Regions from separate parts of the Homo sapiens genome. Here regions 1 and 3 are each linked to region 2. The links come from fine-mapping of genetic effects on gene expression. A gene starts in region 2. Each other region holds a variant in brackets. All regions are shown on one strand. Distances are between the middles of the regions.

Region 1 (6,140 bases), 21 kb before region 2:
TCTGCCCCATACAGATTTTTTTCACTCACCCTTTCTCAAATGAGACACACTTCGTGTTCCAAAGATGGTGATAAACTTTTCTTCATCTGTCCCCCATTTAAGTTCTCCAGCCTGAAATAAAGCCTGCAAAAATTTCAAACTCAATTAATAAATTGTTCCTCCATCTCATTTCCAGGTTCTTAAACACACTTGTTTTTTACTCCCTGAATTTTAACTCACTTGATTCATCATCTTGTATTAATAGTTTTCATTTCTAATGTGTCCTACTCTGAAACTCAGCTCACTGAGTTTGGAGCACCTTTGGAGCTTGCCACTGAACTGTGCCACAGAAGATTCATGGGTCCAAGCAACAAAGCACGGCAATGGTGCAAGGTTACATGTTCCCAAAATGTCTGCCATAACCTCCAATCTTTCAGAAGCAACAGTATGGGTCAGGAGAAAGTTATGACTACCTCACTGTTGATACATCCATGTATAGACTGGGAAAGGATTTAACTGGAAGCTAAGTTGTCTGCCTTTTCTGTTTTGCTTGTTCTATAGCTGTTCAATAGCACATGAGTAAAAGTACACTTCATATTTTCTCTTTACAACTGAGATTTAACCAAGGCTAGCTATAAAATGTTTTCATATTTCCAAAGATCACAATAAATTTTTAAAAGATTGTGGGTATAGCACAGTGCCTGGCATATAGAAGCACTCAATAAGTAGTGGTTGAATAGTTTGAGTGCCCATACTTCCTTTTTGACATGGGGAAAAAATATGCTTTCTTGTGCACGTATAGCTGCCTAAAAAAATAAGCTTATATACAAACATCAACGTTAACTCTGAATCCACTTATTGACGTGAGAATAATTTATTAAAACCCAAAGAATCAACCTTTACAATGACTGTACTATCCTTTTATTCATTTCAAACTAAGTCTACATATTAAAGCAAGATGAATGCAATTTGCTGAGGCTGCTACTTGCAGTTGGCCTTATACCCACAAGCAGCAATCCAAATAAAGACAGGAAGTGATAATAACAGGCTTGAATATAGAAGTTTTGATCACAGTATATTTAAAAATGTAGATTATGGTGGTAAAGATCTATTTTTTATTATATTTCTGGAGAATAAGAAAAAAATGAGACTCATGTATCTTTATGCTCAATTTTAAAATTAATTATTTTAAAGATAAAAATGAATAATATCAATTCTGGCCATGTGAACATGCTCTTAAAACCTGAAAAGACAGTAACTCTGAAAGTCATGCATGCATCTAAACTTTAGAACTATATCATGATGACACAGACCTTTCTTAAAATAACTTTTAAAATTTAATTACAAAAACAACGCAAGTTCATTGAGAAATTTTATAAAACTAAGAAAGAACAAAAATAAGAAAATAGAAGTTGCAGGCTAGGCATAGTGGCTCATGCCTGTAATCCCAGCATTTTGGGACGCTGAGGCAGGTGGATCGCTTGAGCCCAGGAGTTCAAGACCAGCCTGGGCAACCTGTCAAAACCTGTCTCTACTAAAAATACAAAACTTATCCAGGCACGGTGGCAGATGCCTGTAATCCCAGCTACCCGGGAGGCTGTGGCAAGAGAATTGTTTGAACCCAGGAGGCAGAGGTTGCAGTGAGCCTAGATCATGGCACTGCACTCCAGCCTGGGCACGAAGGAAAGGAAAGGGGAAGAGGGAGGGGAGGGGAGGGGAGGGAGAGGGGCGGAAAGGAGAAGGGAGGGGAGGGAGAGGGGAGGGGAGGGAGAGGGGATAGGAAGGAGAAGGGAGGGGAAGGAAAGGGGAGGGTAAGGAAATGGGAGGGGAAGGAAAGGTGAAGGAAAGAAAAGGAAAAAGGAGAAAGGGGAAAGAGAAAGGAAAGAAAAGAAAAGTTGCTATTTAATATCAATTTCCTGAGGGTGCTAGTTACTACTTCTGGTATGTTTCTACATGTAGATAAAATATACAAATACATTAACACCTAAATGGGTAAAGGACTCATCTTGTACAATATCACAGACATTGATGCACACACTTCTTATCAACTGTTTTAAATGTCTAGAAATGTTCTCTAGTAGGTACAGGAGTTAAGCCTGTTATATGGGAATAATTGGTGAGATGTCAGTTATTTTTACCACAATGTTTTAATTTTCTTGGGAGAATTATGTTTGGGATCAATATCTACTGTAAAACTATTATTAAGTAATCATATGCAATAATAATGATGGCTTCTTCATGTAAAACAATGATATTTAACAGTTTTGTTTTAATCTAAGTATCCTTTCTCCTAAATGAGGATGCCCAATATTCATGGATCCATCTGGATGAGGGACCCTTACACCCCTTCCCTAAGCTTTACGGTTCAGCCTGAGTACAGTTTCATAAGCCCTGGTTCAGTGCAAAGGATGAGTCTTTGGAGTCAAAACAGATGTGGTCTATCTGCAAGATCTCAGATGAACTACTTAATCTCCTCTTCAGCCTCAGTGTATATAGTCATTAACGGAGATTATATAACTAAGATAATGCACTGAACAGTGTCAGGTAATCAGTAGCAAATGCCCAGTAAAAGTAAAAAGTGCCTGATTACTTCTCCTTCTCCCTCTTTCCTCTAAGAGTTCAACTCTCCCTCCAGAGAAAGAATAAAACAAGGATTTACTGGGGAAGAAGGTAAATCTGTTTTAATGCATTAAAAGTATTAA[A/T]TCAATTTAACACATTAAAAATGTTAAAAAGTGGATTATCTACAAAACGTTCAGTTCCCAAGTGAATGACTCACTATGGCTTATCAAACCTCTCAAATAATAGAAATCTTCTTAGTGCCAGGTATCAGTAGAGACAAAAATGCAAAAGCTTATAAAAGAGCCCTTTAGCTGTCTCAGCTTACTCTCAATTAAGAAATCTCAAATTCTCACTAGTGATAACAGTCCAGCTGCCCTTGCTACGAGGTACAAGTTGGTGTGTTCCTTTTTATAATGCCAAAAGATTATTTGTTTTCAACAGGTTTATTAATTAATAATAATACATTTGAAAGAATCAAAAATAATAGCCAGTGTAACATGTTCTGTATTGCTCCTAGTCACTGGAAGGCTAAGAAAAGCTTGGATTCCATTCAAGGGATACTTTAAAGTAACTCCATAAAGCAGTTTTCACATGTACAGTCTCACATGTACTCTCAGGGTTCTGAATGGTTATATCCACTGCATGACACGTAAGTGTCACCTATACAGCCTCAGTAATCAAAGGACCAAGAATGCAGGCATTACCTGAGAGCATGTTCAAAATCCAGACTCCCAGCCCCTGCCCAGACCCATAGAATCAGAATCTGCAATTAAAGGTCCCAGGTGCGCCACATGCCCATGAAAGTTTGAGCAGCAGTGCTATCCAGTAAGTGCTCCAAGGACAGAAATCAATGAAAACAAGGTTAAAATGTACTGTTTTCCCCTCAGGAGCCTCGTGCTGCAGCAATGCTCTCATTACATCACCAACTATGCTGGGAAATCTGCCCTCTGCCTGTGAATGCAGGCCTCACTGCAGACATCTGAGAGGACTAGAGTTGGTTTCTTACACTGTGACCCTGAAAAGCTCCCAGAACTCCTATCCTACTCTTGACAGTAGGAATGAGAGAATCAGCACTATCTCCTAGCAAAGCCACAACCAATGCTTGGAAAGCAGTAAGATCACCTCAGTACTGAACAAAGCCCCTAACAGGAGTACAACTCTGTAGGGTTGCTCTAGCCCTCTTCCCGAAAGAAGGTGGAATTAAGCTAGATCTATGCTTGAGTTGATATTTAATAAGCCCTTTAATGATAGAGAAAATCAGGGAAGGCACTAATACTCAAGAACACTGAATATCTTACAGTGAAATATTCTTATAGTGAAATATTAATATTCAATAACACTGACTATCTTCTAGTGAAAGAGAAAGAGCTTTGGAGTCAGACAGGCCTCGTTAGGAATTCCAACTCCACTGCTATTCAGTGGAAGCCATGGGTTTGTTTCTTTATCCATAAAAGGGAAATTGCCCCTTTCTGGTAGAGTTATGTGCTCATTCATTCATCAGTTATTTACTGAGCACCTACTCTATGCCAGAAGCTGAGGATACAATTGAACTGACAGCTCAGGGGGCCCAGGAAGGCAGTGAAGTAAATAGATGGCTTCCAGAGAACGTGGCAAGAACTGTGACAGGAAGCCTGGGGGCGGGGGGGGGTATGGTTTTCCCTGTGAGGGGCACCTAACTCTAAAGTATCTAAGCTGAAGACTGACTCTTGAAGAGGACTCAGGTGAAGCGGGGTGGGAGGGGCAAGAGGGCAGAGAGAGCATGTGAGAGAGGCTGGAGGCATAAGTAAACAACACACAGATAACAAAGGGGCTTGTAACCCATTCAGGAACCCGGACTTTATCCTGAGGGCAATGGAACCACCAGAGTCTGAAGGGGCTGGACACAATTGGCTTGCATTTTCTAAGACAGAGTGAAGCAAGAGTCAAATACTGCACAGAGAGCCCTCGGTAAACATTCAGTTCTTTTTTTCTCTCCAGCTAGACAGAGATGACAGCATTCTGAAACCATTATAAAATCAACCTACCCAAAAGAATAACCGCTCTCCTCTTTCCTGTTAGCAAAGTGAGATCGCATATCCATGGGTTGTTCCACTGGAGGAATGAATATGGCTCTTCCTTTTTCAATGATACATGACAAACAACCAAGAATTGTATATTCTCTTAATTGAAACATGTGACCAGAAAGAGGTCTATGATTGGTGGTTCTAGGAACCCAAGTAATTCCTTTATTACCAATTTCCAGTTTTCAGCTCTCATGTTTCAAATTTCCTTTCCTATATTTTAATAACTGTTTTATTAACCAGACTGAGACTTTATAGGGGTTTATAAGTCACTTAAGAGGAAATTTTCATTTGGAGTCACTAAAAAGCTGCTGACAGAAGACCAATCCTACTTAAAATTCTGTCGAAGGAAATGCAGAGAAATTTCCTAATACCAAAATAACTTGTCATCTCTTATGTAATTAAACACCACTTACTGTTAAATACTTTATTCTTTCTTCTTTATCTTCTCCTGCTAAGAGACCCACTGCATAATTGGCAGTGGAAGTAATAACACTGTTTTTTGGTAAAATTCTCTATTTTGTGAATGTTCAATAATCACAAAAAAAAACATGTCTAGTTGGAACTCACTATATAATTTATTTTATTTCGTTTCAGCTTTAAGGTAAAATATTTTGCTGACCAGGTCAGAATAAGAAAAAGCTACTTATGTAGGTCTTATGCTATGTAAATAACCCATTAACAAGATTATCACTAGAAGCTATTACAACATACATTGTGATTTTTCATTACCATGAATTATTTCTTCATTTCTACAGCATAATAAAGTCATCATATCCTGGTGTCACTCACCTGAGCATCTTGTTCAACTTGAGCTTCATCAATTCCAGCATCAGGGTCTCTGTTAGCCTATGAGAGGTAATATGTCACATTACTGAACTATAGAGCATTCTCATTCAAAAGGAAAAATGGTTCCACCTGATGGTTATTCAATAACACTCTTTCTCTAGGAATAATATGCTTTTATTAAGATCAATCCTGCACTATTTCACGTTATCATCACCCAGCACTGTCCAAAACCAATAATGACCCTACTGATTTTAAATTCTATGAAAGAACAAGATACCGCTATCATTCTATGAAAGGAACAAGATACTACTATCTAAAACATGTATGAGTTAGCTGTTAAGAATTTAGACCAGATATTCTGAAACACAAACAAGCACAGGCAACATACAGTCAGAATCATCGCAGTAAGAATCAGCAAGTACCACAAATTATTAAAAGAATTTTAAGTGACCTTACTTAACTAGATTCAGCCCAGTCCAACTTCAGGCTTTTTAATCAAACTGTAATTAATCTCCACGCAATACCTGAAGGAGAACCACCAACATCCGCTGGTAGTACCCTGAAGTGTCCCCCACCACGTCATCTTCCAGGCTTGAGCCATATTCTGCAACAAAATAATTTCATACTTATTTACATCTTCTTTCAACTAGAAAAGTAATCTTGCCCCATTAATCAAATGAAAGCGATGTAAAAGAAGAAATAATTATATTTGGTTAACATAAATTCCCTCTATTCCATCTCTGAATGCTCTAA
Region 2 (6,140 bases):
TTAAAAAACAGATGCATTTGTGAAATTTTAGAATAGTATGAAGGTTATATGAATAAAATGTATTTCAGGAATGAATCTATGCTGTAAAAGCACTGTTATATTTTTACCATTTTGAACTTCTAAGTCATTAAAAGAAGAAAGCCGGACTGCCTGCCTGTAACTAGCCTGATCACCTATGTAGGCCTTCCAAGGAGAACTGGATATTAGATAAGGAAATCAGGGTTTGCTGAATGCCAATGAATTGCTCAGTGGCTTGCAAAGCAGCCAAGTAGTTTTTGATCTAGTTCTTTCTCAGCAGCCAAAATGAACTTAAGAGTTAAACAGATAAGGAACCAAGAGAAATCACCAGGAGCAGCACAGGCCACGGGTAAACAGGTAACCCTGATCTAAGATCCCAAAAGTGAACATTAGCTCCAGAGAGACTTGACTTTAAAAAATGAATGGCATGAAAAGATGCAATCAATATCCAGTCAGCTCCTCTGGAAGGAGTTTCATCTCAAATTTATTTATTTACATTTATCCTGCTTGCTCGGCACAGGGCTTTTTTAAATTATTATAATAATTTTAAACCAACCGAAAATATTTCTGATCAAACCTTGTAACTTAAACATATACCATAGAGATAATTCTGATGTTCATGAGAACACTTGGACACAGAAAGGGGAACATCACACACCCACACCGGGGCCTATTGTGGGCGGGGGGGAGGGGGGAGGGATAGCATTAGGAGATACAGCTAATGTAAATATTGAGTTAATGGGTGCAGCACACCAACATGGCACCATGTATACATATGTAACAAACCTGCATGTTGTGCACACATACCCTAGAACTTAAAGTATAATAAAAATATATATATAATAAAAAATAAATAAAAAATAAACAAAAAAATTCTGATGTTCATGAAGCTTCTAATGAACAATTACGTAGCCTAGTTTTGCCTTCATGACATTCTTACTGCTCAGACGCCGCACCCAACTTTAATACTAAACTTTTTTTTTGAGACGTAGTCTCACTGTTGCCCAGGCTGGAGTGCAGCAGCGCGATCTCAGCTCACTGCAACCTCCGCCTCCCGGGTTCAAGTGATTCTCCTGCCTCAGCCTCCCGAGTAGCTGGGATTACAGTTGTGCACCACCATGCCCAGCTAATTTTTGTATTTTTAGAAGAGACGAGGTCTCACCATGTTGGTTAGGCTGGTCTCGAACTCCTGACCTCGTGATCCACGTGCCTCAGCCTCCCAAAGTGCTAGGATTACAGGCATGAGCCACCATGCCTGGCCAATACTAAATATTTTAACAAAATGTTTTACTTTCATGATTTCCAAAAATAGTAACAAAACTAGAACAAAATTTAACACTCTGTATCTTTTTTAAAACATTACTTGTAACTTTTATGATTAGTAAAAACTGTAGTTTTGATAGAAAACAGTCTTGGTGTTATATTGTCATAGGGCTCAGGTACATAATTTTATATGCAAACCACCATTCTCCTAGGTTTTCTATACACATGGCCTTTATGATACTAATCATTCTTTGAAATTATTAAAATTAATGTCCACAACTGGAAAATATGTTCGCTTATACTATTTGGGTAAACAGTCTACATAATGAAAAGGAATTGATGGACCCTCAGACATCACTGGGGAACTTACAAGAGATTCAAGAAACTGCTAAATGAGCAAAGATAGAGGGAATTATTATTCGATGCTTGTTAAATCTTCATGTACATCACCACACCAGCATATCAAGATAGGAAAAATATTACTCAGGAAAGTTAATTCCACATAAAAGTATCCTTTCTATGGAGAAGAACTTAAACCAAACTTTCCACTTGAAGTAATATGAGAATTGGTTTACTGTAACATTTAAGTGCAAAAGAGGAGGTAAGAATGGGATCACTGTGTAAGTTTCATAAAGTAATCAACTAATCTTAATCCTCCCATTTTCACTTGGAAAGGACCAAGAAACCTTTTTCAATTTTGATAAGTCAATCTGATAAAAAGTGAACTATAAATAAGAGACAGCATTGTTTTAGCAGTTAAAACACTTGTTTAAAAAAAACTATCTGGACTCTGACAAGCCGGTTAGATTGACAAGATCTGTGAAATCAGTTTTAGAGTTTTTAAGCCCTGGTATCTTATTCACAAAAGACTGTATAACATGGTCAATATTTAAAGACCTTAAACTATCTTCTCTTTCCTACATTTTTGATAAACATTAATAACAGTAAAGAAACCAGGCGCAGTGGGATTACAGTCCTGAGGCCGAGGCGGGAGGATCACTTGAGGCAAGGAGTTTGAGACCAGCCTGGCCAACATGGTGAAACCCCGCCTCTACTAAAAATACAAAATTAGCTGGGCATGGTGGGGCGCCTGTAATCCCAGCTACTTGGAAAGCTGAGACACGAGAATTGCTTGAACCCGGGAGGCAGAGGTTGTAGTGAGCGAGATCACTACGTCACTGGACTCCAGCCTGGGCGACAGAGTGAGACTCCGTCTCAAAAAAAAAGGAAAAAAAAAAAACAGTAAAGAAAGCCTGTAGTAGATTATCAATTTCTGAAACAGTCCCAAGGCAAATTCAATTGAGAACTCGTTCCACGAGTTCATTGCTTAAGAAAAACAGCGCTTGTGTTTAATCTTTTGGATTAAAAAAAAAATCAGAGCCTACGTCCTACAGTTTTAGTAAAACTGGGCTGAGCAACTGGAAAAAGCCAATGCTCAATCACAGTATTAAAATACAGAAAACTTTGCGGAAAAAAAATAAAGGAAGTCGGGGGGCGGGGTGGGGGGGGAATGCGTTCGCCTCACATGACCACGATGAGCTGTTCTTGCTCCGGTTCTAATTTGAGCTACTCTCTGGATTTTGGGGAAGGCCCACTTTTACACATTCACTCATGAAAAGGGAGCGCACACAAATCCGGCCACGTCACCAGCTGTTGCGCGCGAAGGCAGCTTGGCGGCGTCGGTGCTGGTTCCGGAGGGCGCTCAGCGGGAAGAACCGGGACACAGAAACGGGGGCAGGGAAGCAAAGGGGGAACAAGAAAAGTGGAAGCGATGTCCCCAAAGCAGGTTCCCTTTCCTCCTAAACTTTTTGGCTCTCAGACAAATCCTAAAAGTCCCTCGTCGCAGCATACAAAGTTGTGGGTAAATCCAGCGCAGTGGGGGGCGCACGGCCTTACCTGTGCCATGGCGACTACTCAGGTCAGGGGAAGGTGAAGCAGGACTGCAAAAGAGAAGAAACCTCGGGCTTAGCGCGCCATTTGCAACTCGTGCCCTCCCCAAGCGCAGGTCCGCGGGGACCCGGCGGCGCTCAGACAGCCCGGAGGGCCCCGCCACGGGGCCGACCCGCCCTCTCGCAGCTACCGGGACAGCTCTCGGCCGAGCGTCCGCGCGAATCCAGTGCCCCGCGACCACGCTCTCCTCTCCAGAAGGAGCCCCCTCCCCGGGCTGCGACCACTCACCCAGACTGTGGGACCCAAGTGCCCCGAAACCCCGGGAGAGCGGCGGAGAGCCGGGCGACGGTACGCGGGGCGACGCCGAGATGCAGACGCTGAAGGATCCGGCAGCTGCACCTAGACTGATCCAAGCAACGGAAACGCCAGCGGCCCCACCCCGGCCCTGCCCGGCTTGGCCCGTCCCACCCCCGCCAGGGCCCCAACCGCAGGCCGGCCGCGCCAGCCGGGCCCGCCCCTGCCCCGGCCTCAGCGCGCCTGCGTGGGTCGCGGCTCGTCCCAGTTGGTCTCCCGCGGCGCGGACTGTCCCGCTGGTCTCGCGGGCCTGGGTGGGGAGCGGCCGCAGAGCTGCTGGAACCAGGAGGAGGCGCCGCTCCCCCGAGGGCCCCGGAGACCTCTTGTCCTCGCGCCGCGGGAAGGGCCTGGGGAGCTGTCCAGGGCTCGGGGTTTTGGAGGTGCTTGAGCCTCCCTGCCCTCTGTGACCGCAGGAACCGTAGCCTCACTTGGGTGCTCAACATAGTGCGTGGGCGTCTTTTTGGAGGCGAGACAAAATCATCGCAGCTAAGGACAGCGCGCCTTTGTCGATGGGATAGAAAAAACGTGAAAGGAGGGCCGTTTCCCAAGTTGTTTTTGTTTCTGTTTTGTTTTGTTGTTTTGTTGTTGTTTTAATGCCTATTATTGCTTCCTAGATGGCCCTCTCTTAAATGTACAGCCTTCTAGTAGCGTATGTGGGCTATTTGAAAACCTCTGCTTCCAATCAGTTTCTGTTTTCAAAACTAGCCTAGAACTTTAATATGACTTAAATTTGAGCAATGCCTCATATTGGTTCAACATAAAATATATGAGTATATGAGAGAGAGGGGGAGGGAGGGAGAATCTACAGCGTATTGTACTAGCATGGTGCTGTGTTCTGTGAAAGGGCTTTATATGCAAAGCAGCCCCCAAACGCGAAGGAGTCAAGAAACCAAAGAACGAGACAGACAAATCCAGTCTGTAGGTAATAGGGGTGCTATTGGAGGATGTGGTAGACAGAAGCGTGGCCTTGGGCGGCGGCAAGCAGATAAATTTCTGCACTGTTACTCCCCAGACCCTGGCCTTATATACCGTAAGGAAAGAGTATACTGCTCTGTGCAAGACAATTAAAGGCAGCCCTCCGGAACAGGTGAGAATGCCGTATGCTTCATAGCCTACAATGTGGGCAATAGCATCAAGGTTGACATGTTCTTATGCTAAGGACAGTTTAAAAAAAAAATCCTAGGAATCAGGAGGTATTCATGGGACTGGGGTTATTAAAGGTCAACATGGCGGATTAGCATCCGGGATATAATCACTTTTGTCTCCATATGCTGGAAAAGGAAAAGTAGAAGACACAGGGACCTTCTCAGACTTACTGGTGTGGGGAGGGAAGGTGCCAGGGCAGAGGGGGCAAGAGGACAAGTTTGCGACACTAGATGCAGTGTTCTAGACATATGCTAGAATGGGAAGGGCAAAGTGCTTCTCAACGTGGAGGTTAAGGGTAAGAGATGAGGATCTAGTCTTCTTTGAGAATGAGGAAGAATAAATTAAATGGACAGCAAATGTGGTTCTTTGTATAGAACTTCTCATTCGCTTTCACGTGTGAACCACATGCCTATTCCAGCCCTGACAAAGTCACAACAGAGTGGTTGTTCTCTGGGAAAGGAGGCAAAATTGCAAAATTTGTGGAGCTTGCCAACCCCATCACCCCCACCCCACTGGCGGGTTGCCTTTCCTCTGGGAGCCTCCTCTCCACCAGCCCAGCTGTCTACTCAGCCTCAGGCTCTCCCCAAGTCAGCACCTCCCCCGGGTTTTCTTTACAGGTATTAATATATCTGAAGGCAGCCCTTTTCTGAGCATCTGTCTCCGTTGCTCCAGCTTTTCTACTTTCTCTCTGCCCTGCACCAAAAGCAGGACCTGTAGTCTTGCCTAGAGCATTCTTTTTTCTCACCCATATCCACTTGAACTCAGTTTGCTTCTCTCACTTTCTACTCTCACATTAATGGAGTTAAACAGGACCTCAGAGATCCTGTATTTAACAATCATTGATTTTACAGGGACATGAGACTCATCATGGGTTAGTGACTTGCTCTATGTCCTGCAGCTAAATACTGACAAAATCGATGAGTTATTGGACTCAGAGTCTTGAAATACTCCAGGTAGCATTTCTTTCACTTCCAGTAATATCAGTTTATTCAACTCCTACTCTGGACCAGGCACAGATCTAGGTGCTGGGGTAAACACGGCAAGTGAAACAAAGGCCTTGCCCTCATAGGTCATACATTCTGGTGGAGGAAACAAACAATAAACAAGTATCTAATATGTCCTGTGTGATGCGTGGTATAAAGAAAATAAAGGCTAGGGAATGGAAATGAAGGGAACACTTATTTTGCAAAGGTGATATGAAGCCATTTCTGAGAAGCCTTGAACAGAAACCTAAATTGATACAATTTAATTGTATTTGACAACTATACACTGAGCACCTGTGGAAAGGCCATACCTAAGAGTTTGCACCTTAATATTATAGATAAAGCATGTATATGAACACTACAATGAGAGACTATAAATCAGGAAAGAAATGCCTAGAATGCAATCAAAATGCAATTAGTTTCAGAGGAAGGAGCTAATATTTTGTCAGATGGTTGACATAGCATTTGGATTAGGCTTTTGAGAGA
Region 3 (6,140 bases), 48 kb before region 2:
GAAACACAAGATGTGTATTGGTCAGAACTCATGGTTACTATTAGTTTCTTTTAAGATAGTTAAACTAGTTTACCTACCTTAAACAAGTTTCTTTCTTTGTGTCAAGGACACTTTCTTTGTGTCAAATACAGTGTCAAAGATGAAATTACCAGAATATGGGGATAATGAAGTCTAAACAAAAATAAGATAATTATTAAAACATGAAATGGATACCCTTCTCACCTTCCTCTTCACCAGATAATCAGGAAGGTGAATACAGTAAACACCTCTTTGATGGCTACCTATGGAGGTGGGTATCCAACAGCCATGACTGTTCTTAGTAACTTTACTGCACAGCTATAGCTTATTGATGCAGGAATGGTCAGCTAACACAAGCTGGACCACTCAAATACTGTCATTTCCAATATTTGAAATTTTGAACTGAAAGACAGAGACAGGGAATTGTTGGAATGGAGTTATAGTAATGGCAACACATAAGGGATGAAAAATTCATGTATTCCTGCTGCTAAGTTCCCAAAATATACTCAGCTGTTTTCCATCATACTCAAGATTTAGTTGTTATTTCCCCTAATTCTTTGAGATGAATCAGTGTTGGTTGTTCATCCAACAGTCATTTTCTTCCCTACCTCTTCCTTGATAACAGAAGCCCTAATTGGTCATTTGTCTAGGAGTCACTGGGCCCCTTCCCAGACCCAAGGCAGTGAAGTTAAAGCCAGGTATGAAGAGTCTCATTCTCCTTACCACTGATTGGTTTATGCACAGGTACGCTACAGAGCTTGGGATAAAGTCAACTTTGTATCACCCAAGCTTTTTATCATCCCCTTCCCCCCTTATCTGGATATCGTCATATCTGCACATGATTCCTGGAACACCTAGAGGCATCTTAAAGCCACAAGGAGAGACTCGCCAACAGGCTGTGGTTAGAGAGAACAGCTAGACAAAAGGTACCTGAGTCTCTGATTGAGCTACTGAATTAGCCAACTCTGGGACCTCTGGGCTTCTTGTTACTTGAGATAATGAAGGTCCATATTATTTAAGCCAGATGTAATTGTGTTTTTGTTTACTTTGGGGTTAAATAAAACCAAGTGATATATCCAATATACTCACGATCAATTTCTTTTTTATACAAAGTACCTGAGTTTATTTCTGCTACTTGCTACCAAAGACTATAAACCAGTAGATTGTGGAACTGTGTGTTCCAGGTTTTACCAGGCTGCATGAACAAATGAGGTCACCTTTACATTAGTACTCCAAACACTGATGCTCTCACCCCACACCTGCTTGAGTAGCAGAAAATTCCATGTTTTATTTATATGTTTCTCCTTAAAGGTTTTCAAAAATCTCATGGAAATTCTTAGACTTGCTAAAGATTTACTAGTTACTTGTTTGTTTTTCATTATAATTTTATCAAATAAGCATGTGTTACTAAAATTATTATTTTAATTTTGTCTCTTCTTTAAAGTTTATATAAATTAAATCATAATATATGTATTTTATATCTTGATTCTTTTTTCACTCAACAATGTATATGCAAGATTTATTCACATTATTTGGTGGAGCTGGAGTTTATTTCATTGCTGAATATTCCATTAAATGATATGTAATAATTTAATTTATCCATTCTACTCTAGATATAGACATGGGTTATATCCAATATTTTTCTTGAATATTTTCTGTCCATGGTAGAATTACACTGTCTTTAAAACTGTATATTCTATTTTCATCACTTAACATTTTAGCATAAGCGTTTTTGTGTTGTTAAATTCTATTCCTAAAGATTATCTCTAACAGCTGTATAACACTTCATTATGTGTACATACTATAATTTATTTAACCATTTCCCTAGGGTTTTCATTTAGATTGTCTTCAATTATTTGTTACTATGAATAATGTTATAGTGAACATTTTTTACACAGATTTATATCTGCATTTCAAAGCATTTCCTTAGGTCATTTCCAAAAACTAGAATTACCATGTCAAGCAGTATAAATATTTTAAATCAAATTTCCCTGCAGAAGGGTTGGACTCATTTATTCTTTCATGAGGAAGAAATGAGAGTGCCTATTTCACCTCATCCTTACAAGCACTAAATATGCTTGCATGTTGTTCCCTCTCTCTCCTCCCCTCTCTCATCTCCTTCAAGGGTTTTGATACAAACCTTGATCACTACTTGGTCAGGTACCAAAAAAGGACTTTTTATGTATAAGAAATTCTAGATGAATTAGACCTTCAAAAAGAAAAAGCATTCAACAATAATAAATAAAAATATCCCTGGATTTTTAAAGAGAAAAATAGAAGAGGAAGGAGAATAAAACTGTGGCCGAAACTAACTAGACGCTCACCAAACACACGTTCTCTTCTAAGCACACAACAAAATTACATTAACTAGTCTCCCTTACATTTGTGTCTATAACAGAGTTCTAGCTAATGGAAAATGGGGAGAAGTGGTGCATGCCAA[C/A]AAAACTTCCCATACATCACCCTACTTTCTCCATCTATAGGCTAAATGGAGAAAATTCTAAGGACATAGAGGACAGAGCCATAAAAAGAAAGGAGACTTAGTCCCTAAATGATTACATGAAATTCCCTAAATGATCACATAAAATTCCTCCCATCCAGAAATACTCACACTGAAATGAGTGAGGAATAGATTTGATAAGGTTAAGTGTCTGAGAATTCTGGATTTAGATATTAACAGCAGCTGGAATTGTTTATCTTAACTATCACAAAATATTTATTGAATAATTACTATATTCTAGGTGCTTTGTTAGATGTGTTACTTATGTTTCCCTGTTTAATCATTATAGCAATTTTATGCAGAAGTTCTTATTAGTACCATCTTGAAAATAAGTGATTTTCCCAATTAAAGACAAGTGATTTGCCCAAGAGGGAAGAGTCAGAATTTAAATCTGAGTTCCTCTGATGGCAAAGGCCATGCTCATCACACTATCTCATGCTTGCTGTAAGTGTTTTATATACAGAGGCTGTATAAAACACATAGGGACTATGGTGCATTCATTCAACAATCAATCATTGAATGCACACAGGATCTTTTTTTTTTTACATATGTAATGGGGCCTACATCTTCTCATCTCTAACTTATATCTCTTATAAATATAGAAATTGAAACTTAGTCATTTATATTTAGCTAATGTCATAATAAATTTTTTCATATTTTAAATATCAAGGCCATGTATTTACATGTTTTGAGTAGAGGAAAGTGAGGTGGGGCCATAGAAGGGCAGTAGAGAGATTCCTTCTCGATGATTTTGGGCCTGCATCCCGTTTCCAAGTCCCATGAGGTGCCTGGAATGTGGCAAGGCCTTTGACGCAGTGGCTGATGGAAAGCAATAGGGGATGGGGAATGTTGTAGAGCTGCCTCTTAAGTGAACCACACAGCAAGTCACTACAGTGGACTGTTCAAATCACTATGGCATGTTTTAGGCTGCCTGTGCCTCAATAATAACCTACACAAATTTAGCAATCCTGTTCCTAAAGAGAAAATAATCTGTGAATACACACCTTAAAGCTCCAAATTTACAGAGCAATGTCTATCATCAAAAATTAATTTTAGGTATCTTCCTTTTAATTAGCTTCAGCTAATTAGCTGCTAAACTGTACACTACAGATGCTTCAAATTTGCCCCACAACACTAAGATGAAGACATTTCATGCTATTATCTCTTTTTAAAAATCACATCATGTCAGAATCTAAATTCCTCATCTTTCATATTAATAAAATATTTCCCCAAACTTTATCATGCTTTGTGAGTCACCCCCCCTTCCTCGATATCACAAAAGAAATTGGTGGAGCTTACACAATCTCGTTATATATATATATAAAGGGCTTCTAAGGTAACCAGTTCATCTTTGCTCTCTGAAAAGATACAAGTTTAGATGATTCACTTGAAGGAGCAGCTCCAGAACACTCCCATTCCTCAGTCCCTACTGCCCAAATCAGTGACCACATCAAAGACCTTGCCATCTTCCAGGGTACTTCATGGGAACTGGGACTGGAATACAAACCAATCCCACAGAAAGGGCCCCTCTGTACTCTCCCTGCCATCTCAACCTTAGGGCTCTACCTCACCTTCTCTACTCAAAGCCTGCCTTCCTGCTCAGGGGTAATACTACATAATCCCCTCATCCTACTTCCACTCCTACCACCCAAAACTCATGAACCAGAGACGCTTCTCACGGCTCAAACCTAAGGGAACACAACACCAACCTTTTCTTTCTGGATTTCAGTGAGGAAACGAGATCTTAATTCCTTCCTGGTGAGGATTCAGCAGCAGCAACAACAAAAGAAAAAACAAGAAAGTAATAATAATGATGCTTTCACATATATAAAAACAGAACCTAGCAATACACATTGATAACATAAAACTAGTCATTTTACTTAAGATTATATTTTAATAAAGAGCCACTAGAATCAGGATCTTCTCAGCATCATTCATTAACTACTCAGGAATGGTCTGCTTCATTCATCTCACAGGCAGTCCCACATTTATTATTCAGCAAATGTTTGTCACATGCTTTCTACATGCCAGCCATAGCACTGGAAGCTGGGGATATAAAAATGTCCATGCTTGAGCATTTCCTCTGTCCAGGTGTGCCTTCACAATTATTAACTCATGTTAGTTCTCAATGAAGTGCAACAATATTATCTTCATTTTATACATGAGGAAAACATCAGAGAAATCAAGTAAACTGCTCAGTCATAGAGCTGGTAATTGGTAGAGAAGGGATTCTAACTCAGTTGGTCTGGCTTGAGAGCCATACTCTTTATCAGTACTCTAGTGAGATATATTAGGTATTTCTGTATAGCACCCATATTAGCATAATGATTGCCAGAACACCCCATCCACATCCCCCTACTGAACCCTGGGGTTTCCCATTCCAGCATCCCTTTCCCTAAGACCCACCTAACTCAGATGCATCCCGCCATCCAGGATCCTCCAACCAAAACCCTGATCTGCACTTCCCCAGGGTAGATATAGACCTTTAACACCCTAAACACTAAAAAGATTTTGGTGGGCATTCCCAGCCAATATGTACTGAAAAACACAATTTAATATTTTGAAATGATACAAGCTTAACTACACAGTAAGAAAAACCATTTCATTCAGGCCAGCCGTGGTGGCTCATGCCTGTGATCCTAGCACTTTGGGAGGTCAAGACTGGGGGATCACTTGAGCCTAGGAATTCGAGGCCAGCCTGGGCAACCTCGTCTCTACAAAAAATACAAAAATTAGCTGAGCGTGATGGTACACACCTGTAGTCCAAGCTACTCGGGAGGCTGAGGCAAGAGGATCACTTGAGCCTGGGAGGTCAAGGCTGTGGTGAGCCGTGATTGGACCCCTGCACTCCAGTCTGGGTAACAAAGTAAGACCCTGTCTCAAAAAAAAGGAAATAATTTTGTTCTAAATTTTTAGATATAAATTTATATGAAAGTTTATTGAAGCTGAATCAACATCTCTTCGTTTTCTCCCCCTTTTTTCCCTTTTGTCTTCCTGACATAAGTTTACACTTAATGTAGGTAATCCAGTCCAGCCCAGTCTGGCAAGGTATTTAGGAGGCCCACAGGGGAGGCTGCTCCATTAGACTGAAATTACTTTAAGCTCTTAAGCAGAGATTACTCTTCTCCACAAAAAGAGATGATCCTCAGTAGCAGTGATTATCTGTAATTTCTTGAAGTTCTTATGAACTCTAAAATTCTACGTGGCTCTAGCTGTTATAATCATTGTTTGCTTAGGTTTTTTGTTTTAAAGAAGGAGAAATGAAAATACCATGGCCTTAGTCTTCTGTGGAGTTTTTGGTTTATGTCTGCAAAACATTGTGCTCTGCTTGATGATAAATGTACCCATTATCTTAGTTAGAAAGATAAAGAAATATATTTTTAAAGTTACATGAATCTATTTCTTTACCTCATCAACAAAATTCCTCCTATTACCTCTCTCTCCAATACATATGCTTGAACTTTATGTTAATTAAAATTAGAAATAATTAAAAAAATTACCAAAAAGTATCAGTGTCAACTGCACAAAGGATGCTTTAGGCAGAGAGGAGCATAAGGCTCAGAAATGCTCTTCAAGGACTTATATTCTCTTGGAGGAAAGAGCTGAATAGGATAGTTAAAAGCAC

What was found. PIP is the estimated chance that this variant, and not a neighbour inherited with it, causes the effect. A credible set is the group of variants that fine-mapping cannot tell apart.
Region 1: its variant is the best candidate, but not a certain one, in a credible set for the expression of ANXA5 in whole blood (TOPMed, PIP 0.74).
Region 3: its variant is the best candidate, but not a certain one, in a credible set for the expression of ANXA5 in skeletal muscle (GTEx, PIP 0.83).

Annotation. Positions count from the first base shown.
Region 1 is chr4:121,672,504-121,678,643 of GRCh38, forward strand. ANXA5 (annexin A5) reads right to left here. Exons shown (of 13, transcript NM_001154.4): 7 at 5,912-5,991; 8 at 5,391-5,447; 9 at 30-123. Among named protein-coding and RNA genes, the nearest start is that of ANXA5, 21 kb to the right of the region's middle. The variant A/T (reference allele first, on the strand shown) is at 2,682.
Region 2 is chr4:121,693,404-121,699,543 of GRCh38, forward strand. ANXA5 (annexin A5) reads right to left here and starts at 3,577. Exons shown (of 13, transcript NM_001154.4): 1 at 3,460-3,577; 2 at 3,178-3,221. The coding sequence starts at 3,186. RefSeq lists a silencer at 3,526-3,945.
Region 3 is chr4:121,645,367-121,651,506 of GRCh38, forward strand. It overlaps LOC105377402 (a long non-coding RNA gene), which reads right to left and starts at 5,285. Exons shown (of 3, transcript XR_939167.3): 1 at 5,272-5,285; 2 at 4,225-4,270. The variant C/A (reference allele first, on the strand shown) is at 2,459.